Regions from separate parts of the Homo sapiens genome. Here region 1 is linked to region 2. The links come from fine-mapping of genetic effects on gene expression. A gene starts in region 2. The other region holds a variant in brackets. All regions are shown on one strand. Distances are between the middles of the regions. Region 1 holds the start of LOC105374355 (vegetative cell wall protein gp1-like). Region 2 holds the start of DOK7 (docking protein 7).

Region 1 (10,954 bases), 24 kb after region 2:
TGAGCTTGGAGGAAGAGGCTGGCAGGGGCCAGAGAAGGTTCTGATTGAGGTCCAGAAGATGGAGGGCGAGGCTGCCCCAGGCAGCAGCTGCCTGGTTGGGGGATGGGAACCCTGTGGATTGCAGGAATGTTAACAAGGTGGTGATGGACAAGGGGAGGAGGGCCGGCCCGGGAAGGGGGGGCCTTCTAGAGTGGTGCCCCTGGACTGGGGCTGCTTCAGGAGGGCAGAGGAGGGGTGGGAGCCAACACCCACTGCCAGGCTCCAGGCCTTCCTCCACCCGAGACCCACTAGGTGGGGCCACTCCCAAGTGTACAAGAAGCTGCCACCTTGGGGGATGGAGAGGGCTGAGGGTCATGTTATCAAGACTTCTCAGTCCTGCCCATGCCTACCTGGCATGAGCCATCCAGGACACCCTGGTCACCCCGATGTTTGTTCTCTGAGGAGCTGGGATTATGAGCACTTAAGATTCTGACATCAAGGGGCAGCCACGAGGGCACTCAAGAATATTCAGATGGAAACCATCTTAGATCTAATTGGCTCATTAAATGTCTGCGTGGAGGAGCATTTTCTTTCTCAAGCCGGTGAGTCCTGGAGTTAGTGCAACAGCTTTTTCACTGGAGACGTGTTTCTCAGGAAGCAGGTGCGTCTGTAACGTGGGTGAGGTTTGCCTGCCGCTCAGCAACCCCAGCCTCTGTCCAGAGTTGGCGCCGCCCTGAGCCCCGCAGCTCCTGGCCTTCTGCTTGTGTTCTGCTGACTCTGTCCTGCTTCTCTGCGTCTTCCATGCTCTTTCCTCTTACCCTCACGCCTCCTATCCCCCACAACAGGGCTCCTATACAGCCCTTTGGGACACCCGTTTGTGCTCAAAGATGTCTGACGTGCCCTTTTCACCCCCCTCCACCGCTTACCCTCTAACAGCTGAGCTAACTCCTATTTACCCTGCCACACCTAGCGGCTGGCGGCTGTTCCCTGGCTGGCAATTCTGTGGGCCAGGGATCTGGACGGGGCTCAGTGAGGACAGCTCATCTCTGCCCCATGAGGTGCTGCCTGGGGTCCCTCGGGCAGTGGCATTTGGCTATGGTGGGGCCCAAAGGCCCAGGAAAGCACTGTGCCGGCTGTTGGCTGGGTTGCCTCAGTTTCCCTCCAGGAACCTCACCCTCCGATAGGACACCTTGGGCTTCTCAATAGGTTCCAAGAGAGCAGAAGCTGCCAGGCCTCTGACGGTCTTGGGGCAGGGCTGGGAGAGCATCCCTCATGCCACTTTATGCCAGAGCCATCACTGGCTGGCTTCGATTCCAGGGAGGGAGTGGACCAGCCTCTGGAGAAGGAGCGGCCTCTGAGGGCAGGGATAGGGGAAACAGAGTGGCCGGCTTTGCTGCAGTCACACCTGTGTGATATAGCAAAATGGGGCAGGCCCTGTTCTCCCCCCTTTCCCCAAACACACAGGCAAACAGGAAACATGCGCACCCTGTCTTGGGGAAGGGGCAGGGGGGCGGTCAGCAGCCTCTCACCTATGTCTTTCCACCCAAGGCCGAGCACTGGGGGTCTCCTGGTTATGGGCGCTTGGGTGGACACTGAGACCACAGACGGCTTGTGCTCCCTGCCGGCAAGGTGCTCAGCCTGGCAGCCGGGACGGCAGCAGGTGGGGCTGAACCCCAGAGGAGGCGTCCGTGAGAGCACCACAGAGGGGCTGTCGGGGTCAGGGGACTGAAGGGGGCCAGAGGCCAAGAAAAGCATCATGAAAGGTGTCGTTATGTGGCCTGAGTCTGGAAAGGTCTGGGGTGTTCTAGGTGGCCAGGGGTGTGGAGGGTGGGGGTGGCAGCCTCCTGAGTGGAGATGTAGGGGTGTGGAGGGTGGGGACGGCAGCCTCCTGAGTGGAGATGTAGGGGTGTGGAGGGTGGGGACGGCAGCCTCCTGAGTGGAGATGTAGGGGTGTGGAGGGTGGGGACGGCAGCCTCCTGAGTGGAGATGTAGGGGTGTGGAGGGTGGGGACGGCAGCCTCCTGAGTGGAGATGGCAGGCAGACCTGGTGTGCAGAGGGAGCTTTGAGCATTCCCAAGACCGGGGGGGGCTGGGTGGGAGCGGGGGTGGAGCATGAACCCAGGGAGGCCCAGCGAGAGCCTAGTCGTGCGGTGTCCTGGGAGGCCATGGCCCAAGACCTTGGCAGACCAGCATTGGAGATGGGCATCTTCCTCCAGGGCCACTGATGTCAGCTCTGCTGGCATGGATGATGGGGGTGGCTGGCGAGGGTGTCGCGTGGGCACGTGGGAGCCCGAGGCTGGCGGTGGGCTGTGCTCCAGGCCTTGCCCGGTTGACCGTGTCTTCGGGGTGAGTGACGCTCCGCAGACGCCGCATGGAATGCGGGGCCGGCTCCACTCCTTCCGTAATGTGGTTTTTTATAGTCGGGGGACTCATTGTCCCGTGGCCACTGCCAGCTGTCTGTAAGCTCAGGATTAGAGAGCCTGGCCTTTCGTGAGAGCTGGGGCTGTGCCGGCTGAGCCCTTCACAGGGAGGGGTGGACCACGGGGACAGGGAGCGACTGCCTGGCACTGAGTGAGCCAGCCAGCAGACAGCATGACGGCCTTCTCCTTGCCTGCCCCCAGGGCCTGGTGCAGGCTCTCTTCTGCCCACCCTACCCAGCTTGGGGGCCCCACCCCATCACGGCCCTCATGAGCCTCTCGGGGCATCCTCCTGGATGGCATCGCAGCGGGCATTGGCCTCCCCTCCATGCCCACCTCCAATTCTGATCAGGAGCACCCCTCACCCACAGTAGGACTGGAAGCTCTATCGGGCCAGAAGGTGCACAGGGGGCCAGGGGACTTGGACTTGAGTCCACCTCGTGGCTGTGTGATGGTGGACAGGTGGCGTGCCTTCTCTGGGCCTCAGTGTCCTTTTTGCTAAAGTAGGAATGGCGCTGTCCCATGACCCGGTTTGGGGACACTACGTGGAAGGAAGCATCCACAGCACAAGGTGCCGCTCGCCCTCGTGTGCCCGGGGTGGCTGCCAAGGGGCCGGCAGCGTCGCCACGTGTCGGGGCTGGCCTGAGTTCCGTGTCCCTGGAATCTACAGCCTGTGTTCCGTGAAGGCAGAGCATGACTGGGCAGCAGGCAGCGGGGGTTCTAATGCCGAGATTTCCCTTCCCCCCAACTCCTGCCCACCCCGGCGCCTTCCCTCCTGCGTACCTTTCTTTGGGCAATGGGCAGAGGCCCCGGAGCGGGCGGGATTCCTGTGAGGTGACGCCAGCCGGAGTGTCCAGCCGGGTGCAGCCAGCCCAGTGGCCCATTCACGCGGCCGCCAGGGCTTCATTCACCCCTGGCCGGGAGGGCAGCGCCCCCGTGACTCGCAGCTGGGGCTTCTCCACGGGTGGCGGCTGCATCGCTCTGCCAGTGACGCTGGGCTGGTCCCTGGGGGCCCTCCTGCTGCTGTGGGGGTGCAGGGGTGGATGCTGGCCCCAGGATGCTGCACACGGCCTCAGGGCAGCACCCACACACTGGCAGCTCCAGCTTCCCCTGAAAGATGACCGAGGAGGTGGGGAGGACGCGGTGCTGGCCAGCAGTGACGGCTGCAGCATGTGTGGGCAGGTGCCGTGCCACACCTTTTACAAACATCTGAATGCAGCCCTCCCAACAGCCCGGGGGAAGGAAGTGTGGTCACATGGCAGCCTTCCTGGGATGTGACCCCAGCTCCAGGTGGCACAGCTCCCTTCTCCTGTGGCCTTGGAGCCCTGAGGGGACCCTACTTGATGTCTCTGGGGTCTCCTGGCTGCTTCATTTGCCCTCAAGACGGCTGTGGGGGCAGGGTCGCTGGGACCTTGGGGCAGAGGAGGGACTGATCAAGTGCCTGCTGGGTGGCAGAGCAGCCACATCCCCCCATCCCCCCAAGCAAGCCCGGAAGGCAGGTATGTGGGCGGGGGCACCCATCTGTCCAGGGCAGGGCACCCCCTCCCTCCTCCCCATGCCCTGTCGGCTGCAGGACCTAGGATGGGCGGGGCAGCACTCACCCCAGCGCCCAAGTTTGAAGGGTGCGGCGGGGTCCCTGGGGAGTCCAGAGGCTCTGGGGACCCAGCTTCACAGAGCCAGGTGGGGTGTCGGCTCTGGGCACCCGGATTCACGGGGCCAGGCGGGGTGTCGGCTCTGGGCATCTGACTTCGTGGGGCCAGGCAGGGTGTCATTGTCGGCTCTTGGTGGAGTTTGCTGCGGTTTCCTGTGTTCCTCCTCTTCAGGGTCCCCAGCCCGCCCTCGGGCC[A/G]GACTGACCTGTCTCTGTCCTTCCTCTGCAGGGGCTGGCGTCTTCTTCCTGTCCTCGGCCGAGGGGGAGCAGATCAGCTTCCTGTTCGACTGCATCGTCCGAGGCATCTCCCCCACCAAGGGCCCCTTTGGGCTGCGGCCGGTTCTACCAGGTGCGTGTGGGAGCCTGGCCGGCCGGGGAGGGTGCGCTCGGCAGGCTGTGCGACGTCCCGGGGCGGGGGGCCACAGTGATTTGTCAGCCCCAGTTAGATGGCCAGCCTCCCCACCCCCAGCTAAGGAACCAGAACCTTTCCAGGCCAGGATTGCAGCCTGGGCTTCTGCAAGCCCTGCTGAGGGATTCAGAGCAGCGGGGGCTGGGCTCGTACCTGCAGGTGCTCTCCCTCGGGGGTCCGAGCTGTTGGAACGCTTGGCCCTAGAGCTTTCTGGCTGGGACAGTCAGCCACAGCTGCCACTGTGCAGTAAGAGACCCTCTGACCCACCACCACCATCTTCCACGCCCAGGAGCAGGGAAGGCCTTGCCCGAGCTCGGTGGCCCGGGGGCAGCTGGTCTGACTCTGCAGCTGGGGTCGGGACTGGCTCTGCCTGAGCCCGGTGTTTAGGCCCAAGGCCACCTCGGGAGGTCCCCTGGCTGTGGGGTCTCAGGACACGTTGGGCTGAGGGGGTCTCGTCTTGTCTCACCCACACTTCCTTGGCTGTGGCTGCGGCACTCTCTGCAGGAGTCCTTGGCCAGGGATGTTGCTGGACCCCAGAGGGGCTCTGGTGCCTGGGCACGGTGGGGCTCCCCAGGTCGGGGCGGGTGCTGGGCCAGGTGCCTCCATGGGCTCTCTCAAATGCTCCTCTTGCTCCACGAGGGCAGCGCTTGACCCAACGTCCAAGTGAGGCCAAGGCCTAGGCCATGTGGCGGGTGAGCAGCAAGCTCACATGTGGCGCCTCCTGGCACTGGCACCCCCGCCGTGGTGTGGCGGGGAAGGGTGACTGGGAGGGCAGAGGCGAGCAGCATGTGGGGTGGGACCTGGGCCTCCCTTCTCCTGGCCACAGCCCCCAATGCCCCCTGCCCACACCAGCAAAGTCCCGTTGGGGGCAGCCCTGGGAGTGGGGAGGTGGCACCTATGGCCAGCGCCCTCCCCGCTGCCCTGCCATGCTGGATGGTGCAGCTGCACCCCTGTAGGTGTCTTCCTGCCTAGTGGATGCACCCCTGCAGGTGTCTTCCTGCCTAGTGGATGCACCCCTGCAGGTGTCTTCCTGCCTAGCGGCTGCAGGCAGGTGTGGATGGTGTGGTCAGCGTGGATGATGTGGTCGGTGTGTTTGGCTGTGCAAGGCGAGGGTGTGCAGAGTGCAGGGCGGGGACAGGGCCGGGCAGGGGCAGCAGGAGGCTGAGCAGGGCTCCCTGCTCTCTCCTGCTCCCCTCAGGCAGTTCCCGGGGAGCAGAGGGAAGCAGGGAAGCAGTACTGGGCAGAGGATGCCAGGGAGGGTTTGCCTGGGACAGCCACTAGATGGGACAGGCTCCACCGCAGGCAGCACGTGGGCCAGCCCCAGGCGGGGCCATTGCTGACAGCTGGAGGGGGTTGGGCTGACCAGAAGTCCCAGACCCCACTCCACAGGACATCTTTGTCAGAGTCAGCTGGGAGCTCTCAGAAAGCTCTGTTGTCAGGGCCTCGGCCTGCAGCTGTGCCCCCAAGCTGTGCCTCTGCAGGTGTGTGGGGGCCTCAGGCCACCCGGAGGTGGGTTGAGCTGGGACACTATGCTGGGCAGCACCCCACCAGAGAAGCCGTGGGCCCAGCCCCCGCAGGCTGGACTTACTGGAGGGTCTGGGCTGATGGGTTCGTCTGCCTGTGCTGGCAGCACACTGGAGCCCCGTGATCACAGGACTCCCACAATAGAGCCCTGCGGGCGGCATCCTCAAGCTCTGGGCTTTCTGCCGTCCTCCTGTGCTGAGCCCGCTGTGACCCACTGGAGGGGCCAAGAGATGCAGGAAGTCCAGCCCCTTGGTCTTCCGCATGTGGACACCGAGTCCCAGAGGCAGCCAGACCCACCAGGAGCAGGAGGGAAGGGCTCAGAGGTCTGGGGTCCACCATGCTCCGAGTATGGCGTGCATGTTACCTTCTTGGCCTGGCCTCCACGGGGGTGCACCGTTGCTGCACCCCATTTTGCAGACGAGGGTGAGAGGCTCAGGGGGCGTGTGGTGGAGCTGGGAGTCGATCCGTGTCTTGCTGGCCCACCAGTTACTGGACGGGAAATGGTGGGAGGTTGTGTCCTGCATCCTGACCCTGGTGTCACCGAGGGGCCACTCTCCGTCCCACCTGTGGGGCATTGGCTTTGAGGGTGGCCCTGGTCGGAATGTCCCAGGGCTGAGGGGCAGTTGTGCTGTCCTGTCACTGTGCTTGTCTTCAGCCTGGACCCTCAGTGCACCAAGGAGCCAGGACTGGTGCCTGCTGTCCTGCCCACGTGGCTGAATGTGTCTGTGAAAGTGCCAGGAGCTGCTAAGCCGTGTGGCCTGTGGGCTCCATGGCCACCAGCAGGCCGTGTCGGGAGGGACTGATGCCTGAGCTGGCACAGCCTTGGCTGCCATCGCCTTCCACCCTCCCAGGCACAGGCAGGGAGGGGACAGGAGAGAGGCTTGTGCCACCCCCATCCCTGTCCCCGGCAATGCTACAGACAGGGCCACAGGGTCTTGGGCTGGCAGGGCCCCAGGCTGACCGGGGCAGTGCCTTGGGGTGGCCATACCCAGAGGTGGGGGAGGCTCCTCCAGGCCCTTCTTGTGTTCCTGGGCCCGGTGCTGTGAGCTCTCACCTGCCCGTGGGGAGGGCCCTGTTCTGAGGTCCTGATGGGGTCTCCTGTAGTGAGCAAGGGCCCCAGCTGGGCACCTGTGTGGGCTGAAGGCATCAGCAGAGGACAGTGTCCTATCAGGGACAGGGCCTCTTCAGCCTAGATGTGAACCTGGACAGGGACACCATTGCTTTCTCTGTTTGTTTCTCCGGAGCGCTGACCATGGGGTCGGGACGTCTGGCTCCAGCCTCCGCCAGGCTGGGTTCTGTCCGCTGAGGCTCTGATCTAGGTGTCCCAGGCTGGGGACTGTACCTTCTGGTCCTCTGTGCGCTGCAGAATTTGGTGTAAACTTTTCATGCTGCCACTGCTCCTGGACTTTGGGGAGAGCAGGTCCTTGGACCTGTTTCGGCTCAGTCCTGCAGGTGCCCCCAAGGTGGGTGTCAGGAGGTGTGTTCTGGAGGCCCAGAGGAGGCCACTTGGAGCAGGACGGGGTCGGTTTGCTCTTGCGGGTGTGGCTGTGGCTTCCCTGCCAGGGAAACTCTTTGGGATGGCTGTGGCCGTGGGTGCTGTGGATGTGGAAGGGGCAGGGTCTTGAGCCCTGCTGTTTGGAGCAAGGTAGCCACTTGGCCCAGTGTTCACATCACTTAGTGCCTGGGACATCCCAGCATGGGCGGGGGCTTGGGGACCAGGGCAGTGATGCTGAGGCTCGCAGCAGCGGTGCTGAGGGGCCAGTGAGAGGTCCCACCCTGCCTGGGCAGGAAGGGGAGGTTTCCTGCCACTCAGTCGCAGAGGACACATGGACGATGAATAGAGAAGGCGAGGCTGGTGCTCCCTGGATGCAGCCCTGAGGGGAGGGGCTAGGTGGGGCCGAGGGTCCGCAGACCACCATGCTCTGAGCCTTGGGCACAGTATGAGTCTCCATCCGAGACCCCAGGGAACGGTGGGGACACTGCAAGGTGGGCGGGCATTTCCCCAGGTGGAGGGGAGCCTGTGAGAAATGGGCACCGTGAATGAGGGGCAGGCAGCCCCTCTTGCAGCGAGGCCGGCCCTGGGGATGGGGGAGGGGCTGGTCATTTTTTGGAACAGAAAATTGAAAAACTCGGTGGTGAGGAAGATGAGGAAGGAGGGGTCTGGCCGGCGTGGGGTCCTGGTGAGTGGGCAGGTGGCAGGGCCATCCACGGGCACAGGGACCCAGCTGGGCGCATGGTGGCCTGGATAGGGGTGGTGTGGGTGTCTGCGTTTGAGGGCCAGCCTCTGGGATGAGGCATCGGGAGGAGCGGGGACTCCCAGGGGACTGCCACTCCACAGAGGGGGATAACCACTGAGTCAGGCTGGGCCTGGTGCCTGCGGGCGAGGGTGGGCGGTGGTGGCCACCTCCTCCACCGAGTCTTCTCTCTGCCACAGACCCAAGTCCCCCGGGACCCTCGACTGTGGAGGAGCGTGTGGCCCAGGAAGCCCTGGAAACCCTACAGCTGGAGAAGCGGCTGAGCCTCCTCTCACATGCGGGCAGGCCGGGCAGTGGAGGTAGGGCCGGGGGCTGACCTGGGCTGTGGGACCTCGGCTAAGCCTCCAGCAGGAGAGCTCAGGAGGCATCCATGCATGTGTGGGGGCTGCAGGCTCCCTCTGCTCATTCATTCATTCCTTCTGTCTCCTGCTCATTCATTCTTCCCCCAACTCCCCGCCCCGCCCGCTACTCATTCATCCTTCCTTCCCCACCACCCTGCTCATTCCTTCCTTCTCCTCCTGCTCATTCATTCCTTCCTTCTTCCTCCTACTCATTAATTCCTTCCTCCCCCCATTCCTTTCTTCACCCCCTCATTCATTCCTTTCTTCACCCCCATTCATTCCTTTTCTCCCTGCTCATTCATTCCTTCCTTCCCCACCCTGCTCATTCATTTCTTCCTCCGCCCCCCCCACTCATTCCTTCCCCCCTCATTCATTCCTGTCTTCACCCCCTCATTCATTCCTTCCTTTTCTCCCTGCTCATTCATTCCTTCCTTCCCCACCTTGCTCATTCATTTCTTCCTCCGCCCCCCCGGCTCATTCTTGCCTTACCTCCATTCATTCCTTCCTTTTCCCCACACTCATTCATTCCTTCCTTCCCCCCACCCCCTGCTCATTCAGTCCTTCTTTCACCCCCCCCACCGCCCCGCTCATTCATTCCTTCATTTCTCTCCTGCTCATTCATTCCTTTCTTCTCCCTCTGCTCATTCATTCCTTCCTTTTCCCCCTGCTCATTCTTTCCTTCACCCCCCCGCTCATTCGTTCCTTCCTTCTCCCCCTGCTCATTCGTTTTTTCCTTCTCTCTCTGCTCATTCCTTCATTTCTTCTCTCCCTGCTCGTTCATTCCTTCCCTCTCCGCCTGCTCGTTCATTTCCCTCCTGCTCATTCATTCCTCCCTTCCCCGCATTCCTTCCTTCCTTCCCCCCTCATGCATTCCTTCATTTCCCCCCACTCATTCCTTCCTTCCTTCTTCCTCCTGCTCATTCCTTCTTTCCTTCTCCCCCGGCTCATTCATTCCTTCCTCTGCCCCCCCGCTCATTCATTCCTGCCTTCCCCCCATTCATTCCTTCCTTCCCCCCCACTCATTTCATTCCTTCATTACCCTCCTGCTCATTAATTTCTTCCTTCTCTCCTCTGCTCATTCATTCCTTCCTTCTTCCCCTGCTCATTCATTCCTTCTCCCCCTGCTCATTTCTTCATTTCCCTCCTGCTCATTCATTCCTTCCTTCTTCTTCCTGCTCATTCATTCCTTCCTTCCCCCCCATTCCTTCCTTTCTTTTCCCCCGGCTCATTCCTTCCTTCTCCCCACTCCTGCTCATTAATTCCTTCCCTCTCCCCCTGCTCGTTCATTCGTTTCTCCCTTCCCCCCATTCCTTCCTTCCTTCTTCCTCCTGCTCATTCATTCCTTCCCCCCTGCTCATTCCTTCCCCCCTGCTCATTCCTTCCTTCTCCCGCTGCTCTTTCATTCCTTCTCCCCTTGCTCATTCATTCCTTCATTCATTCCTTCCTCCGCCCCCCCGCTCATTCATTCCTGCCTTCTCCCCCTGCTCATTCATTCCTTCCTTCTTCGCCTGCTTGTTCCTTCCTTCCTCTGCTCCCCCTGCTCGTTCATTCCTTCCTGCTCACCCCAGCTTCCTTCTTTCCTTCTTCCCCTGCTCATTCATTTCTTTCTTCTCTCCCTACTCAATTTCTCTCTCACTCATTCATTCTTTCCTTGTCCCTCCGCTTATTCCTTCCTTCTGTCTGTTCATTCATTTCTTCCTTCTCCCACCTATTCATTCATTCCTTCCTTCACTTATGGTTCCACATTTACTAAACTCTGGTCTGAGGTGCTGACGGGAAAGGTGGTTCTGCCCTGAGAGCCTTTGAATCCTTTCCTGCCCACCAGCTTGTGGCTGGGGGAGACCAAGGCCCTGCATGTTGGTTTTACCTTCTGTGCCCAGACAAAAGGCTCTAAGGCAGGTGAGCTGGCTGCCCAGGAGCAGAGGCACCTCCTCAGCTGCCGGTGGCTCTGGCTCTGTTGCCATTGTGGGGAGAGGTGGTGGTGGAAGGGGCTGGCAGAGCAGGAGGGGCCGCTGTGCTCCCCGAAGGGTGGCTGCATGGGTGACCTGTGTTCCCACGGCCAAGTGCAGGAGCCGTGCTGGTCCGGCCAGTGCCCTCTGATCACTGCTTGTCCCCCAGAGGGCACCAAGCAGACAGTGGTCATCTCCCCTCCTGCCCTGCCCCAGGAGGAGGGGACTCAGGTTTGCAATAAGCTTTTGCCTTCCTGGGGGTGACTCACAGCTGCTTTCCATTTGGGAGCCCTGGAAGGCAGAGCAGGCAGCTTAGAGACGCAGCAGAGATGAAAGTGGCTTTCCCAAGAGCACGGGAGGGGCCTGGCCTGGCAGGCGGGAGGCAGCCTGGGATCTGCATTGGGTGTGCTTCTCATCCCCCGCAGGGAGGGAG
Region 2 (10,954 bases):
ACTGTCCTCCCTCAGGGGTATATCAACTCTCCGGCTTTGTGTCATAATCTTATTCGGAGAGACCTTGATCGCTTTTCGCTTCTGCAAGATATCACACTGGTTCATTACATTGATGACATTACAGTGACTGGATTCAGTGAGCAAGAAGTAGCAAACACACTGGACTTATTGGTGAGACGTTTGTGTGCCAGAGGATGGGAAATAAATCCGACTAAAATTCAGGGACCTTCTACATCAACAACATTTCTAGGGGTCCAGTGGTTTGGGGCCTGTCGAGATATTCCTAAGGTGAAGGATAAGTTGCTGCATTTGGACCCTCTTACAACCAAGAAAGAGGCACAATGCTTAGTGGGCCTATATGGATTTTGGAGGTAACACAGTCCTCATTTGGGTGTGTTACTCTGGTACATTTACCGAGTGACCTGAAAGGCTGCCAGCTTTGGGTGGGGTCCAGAACAGGAGAAGGCTCTGCAACAGGTCCAGGCTGCTGTGCAAGCTGCTCTGCCACTTGGGCCATATGACCCAAGAGATCCAATGGTGCTTGAGGTGTCAGTGGCACATAGGGATGCTGTTTGGAGTCTCTGGCAGGCCCCCATAGGTGAATCACAGCACAGACCTCTCAGATTTTGGGGCAAGGCCCTGCCATCTTCCGCAGATAACTACTCTCCTTTTGAAAGACAGCTCTTGGCCTGTTACTGGGCTTTGGTGGAAACTGAACATTTGACTATGGGTCATCAAGTCACCATGCAACCTGAACTGCCCGTCATGAACGGGTGCTTTCCAACCCGTCTAGCCATAAAGTGGGTCATGCACAGCAGCATTCCGTCATCAAAGAGAAGTGGTATATATGTGACTGGGCTCAAGCAGATCCTGAAGGCACAAGTAAGTTTTACATGAGGAAGTGGCTCAAATGCCCATGGTCTCCACTCCTGCCACCCTGCCTCCTCTCCCCCAGCCTGCACCAATGGCCTCATGGGGAGTTCCCTGTGATCATTTGCCGCGGTTTGCCATGGTTACTACGGGACTGAACGAAGGAGGATGAATGTAGAAATGAAAACAAAAAACAAGAAACTATTTTAAAGGAAGAGCACGGGGAAGAAGAGGGCTCCCAGTTTCTAGTGAGCAAGGGCAGCCACCCTGAGCTTCTATAGCCCTTCATGTTGGGTAGAAAGATCAGGGAGCAGGAGGTAATGATTGGTCAGCTCCTTAATTGATCTCAGGTTCACATTATTGCTAACAGGCTTCATAGTTACCTAATCACAAGAAACACTTGTGCGTGGGTCGTGACTGCTCTCAGCAGTCCTTCTGGGCAGCATATGTGGTTTGTCAGTTCACCAACAACCTGCTTTTATGAGAACAGTTTGCTGTTTACTCGTATAGCCTCTGGTGGTATACTGAGTTGATCGTGACCCTCACTCTTTCGGCCTGCAACAATCATTTGACAGAGGAAGAGAAGACTAGGACCTGGCTCACAGATGCTTCTGCACGATATGCAGGCACCACCCGAAAGTGGTCAGCTGCGGCACTACAGCCCCTTTTTAGGACATGCCTGAAGGACAGCAGTGAAGGGAAGTCTTCCCAGTGGGCAGAACTTGGAGCGGTGCACCTGGTTGTGCACTTTGCATGGGAGGAGAAATGGCCAGGTGTGTGATTATGTACTGATTCATGGGCTGTAGACAATGGTTTGGCTGGATGGTCAGGGACTTGGAAGAAGCATGATTGGAAAATTGGTGACAAAGACATTTGGGGAAGAGGTATGTGGATGGACCTCTCCGAGTGGTCAAAAACGGAAGATATTTGTGTCCCCTGTGAGTGCTCACCAATGGGTGAACTCAGCAGAGGAGGATTTTAATAATCAAGTGGGTAGGATGACCTGTTCTGTGGACACCACTCAGCTTCTTTCCCCAGCCACCCCTGTCATCGCCCAGTGGGCCCATGAACAAAGTGGCCATGGTGGCAGGGATGGAGATTACACATGGAGATTCAGCAACGTAGCCCTCCACTAGCCAAGGCTGGCCTGTCTACAGCCACTGCTGAGTGCCCAATTTGGCAGCAGCAGAGACTAACACTGAGCCTCAATATGGCACCATTCCTCAGGGTGATCAGCCAGCTCCCCGGTGGCAGGTTGATTATATTGGACCTCTTCCATCCTGGAAAGGGCAGAGGTTTGTCCTCACCGGAATAGACACTTACTCCTGATGTGGGTTTGCCTATCTTGCACGCAGTGCTTCTGCCAAGACTGCCATCCATGGACTCACGGAATGCCTCATCCACCATCAGGGTGTTCCACACAGCATTGCCTCTGAGCAAGGCACTCACTTTACAGCTAAAGAAGTGTGGCAGTGGGCTCATGCTCATGGAATTCACTGATCTTACCACGTTCCCCATCATCCTGAAGCAGCTGGATTGGTAGAACGGTGGAATGGCCTTCTGAAGTCACAATTACAACACCAACTAGGTGACAATACTTTGCAGGGCTGGGACCAAGTTCTCCAGAAGGCCATGTATGCTCTGAATCAGCATCCAAGATATGATATTGTTTCTCCCTTAGCCAGGATGCACGGGTCCAGGAATCAAGGCACTCAAGTGGAAGTGGCACCACTCGCCATCACCCCTAGTGATCCACTAGCAAAATGTTTGCTTCCTGTTCCCACGACATTATGTTCTGCTGGCCTAGAGGTCTTAGTTCCAGAGGGAGGAACGCTGCCACCAGGAGACACAACTGTTCCATTAAGCTAGAAGTTAAGATTGCCACCTGGACACTCTGGGCTCCTCCTACCTTTAAGTCAACAGGCTAAGAAGGAGTTACAGTGTTGGCTGGAGTGATTGACCCAGACTCTCGAGATGAAATCAGTCTACAGCTCCACAAAGGAGGTAAGTAAGAGTATGCATAGAATTACAAAAGATCCATTAGGGCGTCTATTAATATTACCATGCCCTGTGATTAAGGTCAATGGGAAACTACAACAGCCCAATCCAGGCAGGACTACAAATCCCCCAGACACTTCAGGAATGAAGGTTTGGGTCACTCCACCAGGAAAAAAAAAAACATGAACTGCTGAGGTGCTTGCTGAAGGCAAAGGGAAATGGTGAAGGTGAAGGAGGAGCAAAGGCACCTCTTACATGGCGGCAGGCAAAGAGCATGTGCAGGGAACTGCCCTTCATAAAACCATGAGATCTCATGAGACTTATTCACTCTCATGAGAACAGCACAGGAAAACCCCACCCCCATGATTAAATTTCCTCCCACTTGGTCCCTCCCACAACACATGAGGATTACGGGAGCTAATATTATTAATACAATTCAAGATGAGATTTGGGTGGGGACACAGTCGAACTGTATCAGGCATCCTATGGGCAGGCCAGAAGTGTTGGTTACCCCTTCCACCCATGCCTTACTGGCCAGAACTCACTCATACAGCCTTACCTGATGGGGGCGGGGTGGTGGTACTGGGAAATGTGGATGCACAAACGGGTGTGACCACAGGGTACAGTGCTTGCCACACTCAGCTGACGTGTTTCTCTCCCACACACCAGGCCACTTGGAGATGCAAGACAAAGCAGCCCACCCCTGGTCCCCATCATCCCCTTGGAATCACCTTGGAAAACCCTGGATCATTTTGAAAGATGCTCATGGACGCCATCTCATTGGGGCTCATCACAGTATCAAGGTAGAAGAGGAAGCTGAGACCAGTAAGATCACATGGTGGCTGAAGGTGGTGTGGCTAGTCAGGGACAGGTCCCTTGGCCACAGAGCCACTGGCGGGTGGCAATGTGCCACGACCATGGGGTCTGGCAGAGATGGCAGTGTCCCTGGCCACAGTGTCCAGCAGCAGCATGGCAGCCGCAGCAGGGCTCTGTGGTCAGACAGGGGTGCTGCTGTGACCTGAGACTGTGGGCTCCTTTGAAGGTGGTGACCCTGCCCCTCGTGTGGAGCCCAGCTGTGCTGTGGGGCTGAGCTGTGGTGTCCTCCTCTTTCAGGATGTGGCTCTGTTTTCACTGCCTACCAGCTCTCCAGCCTTCCCCTTGGTTCTTGGAGACCTGATTTGCTTCCAATCAACCCCTTCCTACTCAGTGGCCAGCCTATTTCTCCATTTGCAACCAGCAACCCTGGCTATAACTTCTGGGGAAACTTCTGGCTATAACTTCTGAGGCACGGAGCGGGGCAGGAGCTTGCCCAGGGTCACAGCGCTCTCGGCCAGTCTGGGAGTGGCAGCCAGGCCACCTCCTCCTCCTGCAGGAAGCTTCCTCCACCTTTCAGCAGCCCTGGAGCCGCATGGAGCAGGGAAGGGAGTTGTCTACCCTCCGGCATCCTGTGTGTTCCAGGCTGTGTGGGAGCAGGTGCAGCTGCCAGGCATGGCAGGAGCCTGGGCCCGGGCCAGCACTCAGGAATGCAGCAGGGCCCTGCCTCTCCCTGTAGGGATAAGCAAGTGCCAGGCGCCCAGGGCAGCGGATGTGTCTGTGGCTACAGCCCCAACGGCCCCCGCCTCCGCACCGGCTGTCCTGGGCCAGCCCCTTGGGGGCCTGGGATGTGTGGGGAGCATGAATGGGGCTCTGTGACCCAGCAACTGTTCTGCGGAAGGCGGCTGGTGGCTGCACAGGTGACTGCGGGGGTGGGTGGGGGATGCAAAATTCTGCTTCCTGGGCCTGGTGTCCCCCGCCTTGCATGAGGCCCTGACAAGACATCACCGAAGCACCAAAGCCAACCCTTGTGGCCCACCGGAGACCTGTCTCTTGGATCACAGGGGCAGTGGGGAGGGGCGCCCAGGGCTCCCGATGCCTCTGAGCCCTGCTCTGAGGTCAGCCGATGTGGCTCAGTCCTGGCTGTGAGGCCTCACGCTGCCCTGATTCCATTTGCTCCTCAGTGCGAGGCAGACAGAGCCCAGCCTAGGGTCTGGATGGGATGAAATGAAGACGTCTCCTCCCTAACGGGACACTGTCTACCCCTTCCTTCTTCTCCCCCGAGAACCGTCAGCCCCGTGAGGATGGGGTCTAGGGTAGGGCATGTGGACGGAGCTTTGCTGTTTGTCCAGGTGCTTATCTTCTAGGGTGCCATCGCCCCTCCCCACTGCTGTTCCCGTATCTGCTGGGTGTCCCCAACCCCAGGGTGGTGGAGGCCGTCTCTCGGATGGGGCTGACACCCAAGGCACGGACCTGCCAGGTCCCCCAAAGCACATGGCCTCTCTGCAGAAGAACCTGGATGTGACATCTAATGCCCAGGCCAGAGCTTGGGGACAGCTGGACTGGAGCCACAGGGTCAAGGAGGGGGAGTCCAGAAGCGCAAAGTCCACCCAGCTGGGAGGGCTGCTGGCAGGTCCTTTACAAAGCAGGCAGCTCCTCTGCCCATCGGAGCCGGCTGGCCTAACCAGGGCCTGCTCTTGCCTGGGATGGGGGCAGAAGAGGTGGAGACCTGGGGCCCTGAGGCGGCACTGTGGGTCCTGGACCCGCCCACCTGCACTGGGGTCCCTGCAGGCTTTTAATGGGAACAGAAATGGAGGAAGAGACAGAGGCTGCCAGGGGCTCCCCGACCCCTACTGCCTGCCTGGGGAGGGGTCACCTCAGTGTGGGGGAAGCCTGGGGATGTGAGAGCATCCTAGGCCTGGGCTGCCTGTGGCCAGTCTGTTGTCCGGGTGTCTAGTGACCCCTGGGGTAGGGGCAGATGCCAGTCTGGGAAGCCGGATTGTTTGAAGACCAACTTTAAAGTTGGGAGCAGTGCCCAGAGCGGGGCCGATGTCTGCTAGGTGGTTGTCTCTGCTTTTTGAAAAAGAAGTCCCCGCCCGACCCCCGCCCCGCCAGGCGCTGGTCTGAGCGTCTGAGCCCAGATGGTGCGCTTGCTCCAGAGGGCGGGCGGCTCCAGTGGCCGCCGCGGGACGGTGGGGCCAGAGGGGCCCGTGGGGGTGGGGGAGCCGCCCGCAGGAGAAGGAGCCCCGCCCGCGCCGGCCCTGGAGTCGCCGGTGTCGCCGCCCTGCCCGCGGGCCCGCCCTCCTGGCCCAGCCCAGGGCCCTGCGAGCTATTTTGAAAGTGACCCTGGGCTGGGGCGCCGGGGCGAGCGCGGCGGCGCGGAACCATGACAGAAGATGACCGAGGCGGCGCTGGTGGAGGGCCAGGTCAAGCTGCGGGACGGCAAGAAGGTCGGGGCGCGTCGGGGGCGCGGGGGGGGGGGGCGCGGGCGCGGGCGGCGGCTCACGCTCCCCCCTGTCCCCGCAGTGGAAGAGTAGGTGGCTGGTGCTGCGGAAGCCGTCGCCCGTGGCAGGTGAGCGGGGCGGGCGGGGGACGGGGGGCGCGGGGGTAGCGACACGGGTTACCGAGGCCCGGGGCAGTAATGCCAGCTTGCCCAAAATCGCCGCCGCTGTCACCCCGCCGGGAAACCCGAGAGCCCCGTGCGGACCCGGACCCCCCGGCGCCCCTGGGAGCGCAGGTGGGGGCCCTGGACGGAAGAACCCTCTTTCCAGCAGGGCAGACTGAGGCCCGAGGGGCTGCCTGGTGGCCCTGTAGGCGGAGGGGACGCAGGCCCTGAGCCCCCCAGCAGAGCAGCAAGGGGCCCCCCAGAAGCAAAGCCCCACATACCTGAGGGTTGAGCTGTGCTTGTGGAAACGCTCAGAGCAGGGCCCCCGAACCCAGCCTCCAGGGGTGCTGCGTGGGTTAGCGCTGACCCTGGACCCCTCCCAGGCAGACGAGAGGCTGGGCTGCGGTAGGGCAGGGCAGAGTGACTGCCACATTGCTGGGGGAACAGTCCTCTGGGAGGAGGCAGGGGTCCCCCCCCAGTCCCCGCCCTGAGCCAGCACCCCAGCTTGGGGAGGGTCAGCATGGAGCCCCCAGGTCTGGCAGCCCAGGCCGCCTGCAGCGCTGGGCCTGTAGGGAGGGCTGAGCCGGGCCTGCAGCTGCTCCAGAGGACAGGTGCGGCAGAGCCGGCCAGGCCCGGGTCTGGGTGGGATGCTCGGCCTGTGTGCATGGGGGGCTGTACGCCAGGGGGCTGCCAGAGCACCCTCCAGGACGGGTGTCTGTGACTCCCAGGGAGGGTGTGGGGCAGGGATCCCTCCTGCGTCCCCTCTGCAGGGCCTCAGGTGGTCCTGGAGGAAAGCACTTCCTGCCTGCCTCCGCCTCCCCTTGCAGGGCCTGGACTGCACGCTGGTCACTTCTCCACTCAGCCCTCCGTGCCCAGACCTCCTGCCTGGAGCTGTGGGGGCACCGACAGAGCCTGGGAGGGCGTCTTTGTCCTCCGGGGCTGCAGGGGACCTGGTATAGGAAGGGATGGGGTCTGGGCAGAGTGAGAGGCCCTGCCAGGCTGGGGCGGATGACAGGCTTTAGTCAGCTGTGGCTGGGTCGGGGCCGTGGTGGGGCAGGTGATGCTTGGTGGATGGTGCTGGGCTGGAGCCGGTGCAGACCCTCCAGAGAGGCCGCATCCCAGGAAGGCACCCGGGACAGCAGCCCCCAAAGAGGAGTGTCGGGGGAGAAGTCTTTGTCCCTGTTGGAGGGATTTTCTTTCTGCATCAGACAGTCCCAGGAGGCAGGGCCTGCCAGCCTCAAGAGGGTGTGCTCCCCCGGCCGGTGAGTGCCTGAGTGGAGTGACAGGAGTTTGCAATGGGTCCCCCAGGTGGGACAATCTGTGAGTCTGTAGGTGAACATGGTGGCTCCCGAGCGTCTGCTGGGTTATCCCGTATCCTGCGCAGTTGAGATCTGCAGCCTTCTGGGGCTGGCGTGGGAGGTGATGTGGGGTAGTAGAAGGTGCCATGCCCCCTCTGGGTGGATGTTCATTCCAAGCCTTGAGGCCAGGTGTCCCTAGCACCCACTGACTCACTGGCCTGGGACCCATTGCTTTGGACACCTGCTTTCTGTGTTGGTCACTCCAGCAGCCCAGGGTTGAAACTGACACCCTGTGGGGTTGCCCAGAGGTCGGTCAGATGAGGGGATGGGACAGAGCGGAGTTCTCACGCCCACCTCCCCACCCTGACCAGGCCAGCCTGGCACCTCCTCTCCGCTCAGAGGCCCTGATGCCTCTTCCCCTGGCCCCTCATAAGCCTCCCTAGATGCTGCCCCCTTTGCCTTCACCCAGCTGCCTTCCCGCTCAGCGCTGGAGACCACCTCCCTTGTGGATGGGCCCGGCGTGGAGGGAGCAGGCCCCAGCCCTGGAGGAGCAGACAGCACAGACCCTGCGCTCCTGGTGTGAGGGAGAGAGGAAGGGTCCCGTCTGCTTCCTTGTAAGACAGGCAGGGTTCTTTTTGTTACCAGTGGTGATTTCCTTCTGGGAAGGGCCCCGATGTGCACCTTTTCCACTGGCACCTTTCTCCTCCTTGCGTTTTTCTCAATCGTGAGCACGTCTTTCTGTTATGACAAGGTTTAGCGAATGAAAGGGAAACCCTTTTATCAAAGGGCTGCTCAGCCACAGCGCCTGGCATGGCCAGTGGACGTCGGGCCGTCTGCCTCGGTGTGGGACTGCAGGGTGCCCTGCAGTGGGACCACGTTCCTCAATGTCTCCACCGCGTCCTCACTGCGGAATGCGTGTCTGCGTCCCCTCTCTGGGCAGGGCCCCGGGGGAGGAGGGTGGTCTGTGTCCAGTTGTGGCCCAGGACTCACTGCTGGTGGCCCTGCATGCCAGCGGCGCCTGGCCCAGCCCCTCTCTTCTTCCTCCCAGGTGCGGGGGCTGGGGGTGGTGAGGAAAGTGTTCTTGACATCCTGTGGAGAGTGTGGCCCCAGGCCAGACACTTGAGGGGGCCTGCTTCCCACAGGGGCTGCCCCTGGGGGCTTCATCCAGCTCAGAAAAGCCACCGGGAGGGCCCGAGTCCTGGAGCTGGCAGGGTCTTGGAGTCACCATGGTGGGGGGAAGCTGAAACTCAGAAACCCGAGGGATCTGGCCCAAGACATGGACTGCTGGGCAGAGCCCAGTTCCCCCCAGCCAGCCCAAACCTTGCCCCCCACAGCTGGCTGGAAGTTCCGCGCCTGCCCCCGGGCTGATGGCTGGGCCCTTGCTTAGTCTCCCCTATCCTTGCTCTCGGTGGGACTGAGCCCGGCCTGCAGGAGGGACCCCACGGAGACGGCGCAGGAGCCGGGAGCCCCCTGGCAGGTGCCCCGTGAGCCCCGGAGCTGCCCCACGGCTAGTGCTGTCCTGGGGCCCTGCCCTCCACAGCGCCTCCGCTAACGAGGGGCTGGGGGTGGACACTGGGTCGGCCCTTCCTGAGCAGAGCCTCCTGGTGGTGGATTTCCTGTGCGTCTGGCTCCTGCCCCAACGGACTGGGGCTGACATCCCAGCTCCGGGCTGAAGACCGGGCGTGGGTGGTGGCCAGTTATCCTCTCCCCATAGAAACATCAAGAACAGGGCGACCTTCCCTCAGCCCCCGCGTCAGGACAGGGAATCAGAGAGCTGGGGTTCAGCTCTCAGCTCCACATGTGGGAGCAGTGACCTGGGACGGCTCATTCCCCGCCTGCGTCCTCGTCTACTCACAGGGCTCTTGAGGGCAATGGAGAGGTGGGCGCGAGGGCCTGGCCCTGGCATCTGGAGCCTCGTCCTGGGCTGCCCTTGGTGATGTCTGTGGTCTGGGGGGCCCACCTGCACCACACCTCCAACACCTGTGCCGGGCAGGGGCACCCTCACGCGTTTCCTTCCCGAACCAGATTGTGAATGGGTCCGGGGCTAGGCACTGGATCTTGGTCTCGTGTGTCCTGGCTGTGGCCTGGCCCGAGGAGGCATCAGCAGGCCGGCCTGGTCGATGGCCGCCCCCCTTGCTCCTGCCCAGCTTCTGGGGGCGGCTCCAGGCTGCTGCACCCCAGCAGGGTCCCCTCAGGCGGCTACCACCTGCGTTGCTAAGGGCACAGCCTCAAGGTCACTGTGACCTCCAAAGGCTGTCCCGCAGCCACTTCTGCGGACTCCCATCGTGTTCAGTGTGGGCGGGGACCCCCCCCACTGCGTCCCCGGCCCACACATGCCCCTGCCTTCCCTGGGCCACCATGCCTGCTTGCTCCATCTTCCCTGCGGCTTCTCCCCCTCCTCCTTCTTCCCTCCCGCCCTCCCCGGCTCTCCGCCCTGGCTGTAAGGCCTTCCGTGTGCTCATGACTCCACAGTTATTTTTACATCTCCAGAAGCCTGCGTCCAACTGCCTGTGTGCATCGCCGCCCGGTGTCTGGTGGGCTTCTCAGCCTCACGTGTCCAGGGAAGACCCCCCCCCCCCACCCCAGACATCCCTCCCCAACCCAAGTCCCAGGGCTCATCCTGGATTCCTCGTTTCCCTGTGGCTGTGGAGGTGAATGCAGGGGGAGCGTGTGTGCACGTGCGTGTGTGTGTGTGAGGATGTACATGTGCACCTGTACACACCGTGGGAGCGTGTGCACGTGTGAGCAAGTGTGAGCATTTGGGTGAGTGTGTAAGAGTGAATGTGTGAGTGTGGGCTTGTGTGGCTGTCTTAGCTCAGGCGGCTCTTAGCGAATGCCACAGCCTGGGCGGCTCAGACGACAGCCAGTCACTGCTCACGGTTCTGGGGGCTGGAGGTCCAAGATCAAGGCAGCCTGGGTGTCTGGTGAGGATCCGCGTCCTGGGTGTCTCGTGAGGACCATGTCCTGCTGCATAGGTGGCGCTTTCTCTGTCCTTATATGGTGTAGGGGGAGGAAGCGCCCTGGGGCCCCCTCATCAGGTACTGGTCCCATTCTTGAGGCTCCACCCTGATGACCTCATCGCATCCCAAAGGCCCCACCACTAACCCATCGCCTTGGGGGTGAAGATTTCAACACTGGAATTTCAGATTCAGACCCCAGCACTGAGTGCATGAGTGCACGCTTCTGTGTGTGCACAAGCATGAGTGCAAGTGCATGACTGTGTCCACGTGTGTGTGCATGTGAATACCTGTGTGTGCAGGTGTGTATGCAAGTGTGTGTGTGCATGTGAATACCTGTGTGTGGGGGTGTGTGTGCACAAGTGTGTGTGTGTGCATGTGAATACCTGTGTGGGGGTGTATGTGTGCAAGTG

The links.
Region 1: its variant is fine-mapped to the expression of DOK7 in whole blood (TOPMed, PIP above 0.99).

What each region holds. Positions count from the first base shown.
Region 1 is chr4:3,481,267-3,492,220 of GRCh38, forward strand. DOK7 (docking protein 7) reads left to right here. Exons shown (of 7, transcript NM_173660.5): 5 at 4,273-4,392; 6 at 8,411-8,530. LOC105374355 (vegetative cell wall protein gp1-like) reads right to left here and starts at 3,571. Exons shown (of 3, transcript XR_007057994.1): 1 at 3,179-3,571. RefSeq lists enhancers at 1-452, 453-1,419, 3,122-4,321, 4,323-5,289 and a silencer at 8,446-8,555. The variant A/G (reference allele first, on the strand shown) is at 4,242.
Region 2 is chr4:3,457,299-3,468,252 of GRCh38, forward strand. DOK7 (docking protein 7) reads left to right here and starts at 6,008. Exons shown (of 7, transcript NM_173660.5): 1 at 6,008-6,131; 2 at 6,208-6,253. The coding sequence starts at 6,078. RefSeq lists enhancers at 4,786-5,633, 8,551-9,160, 10,380-10,954.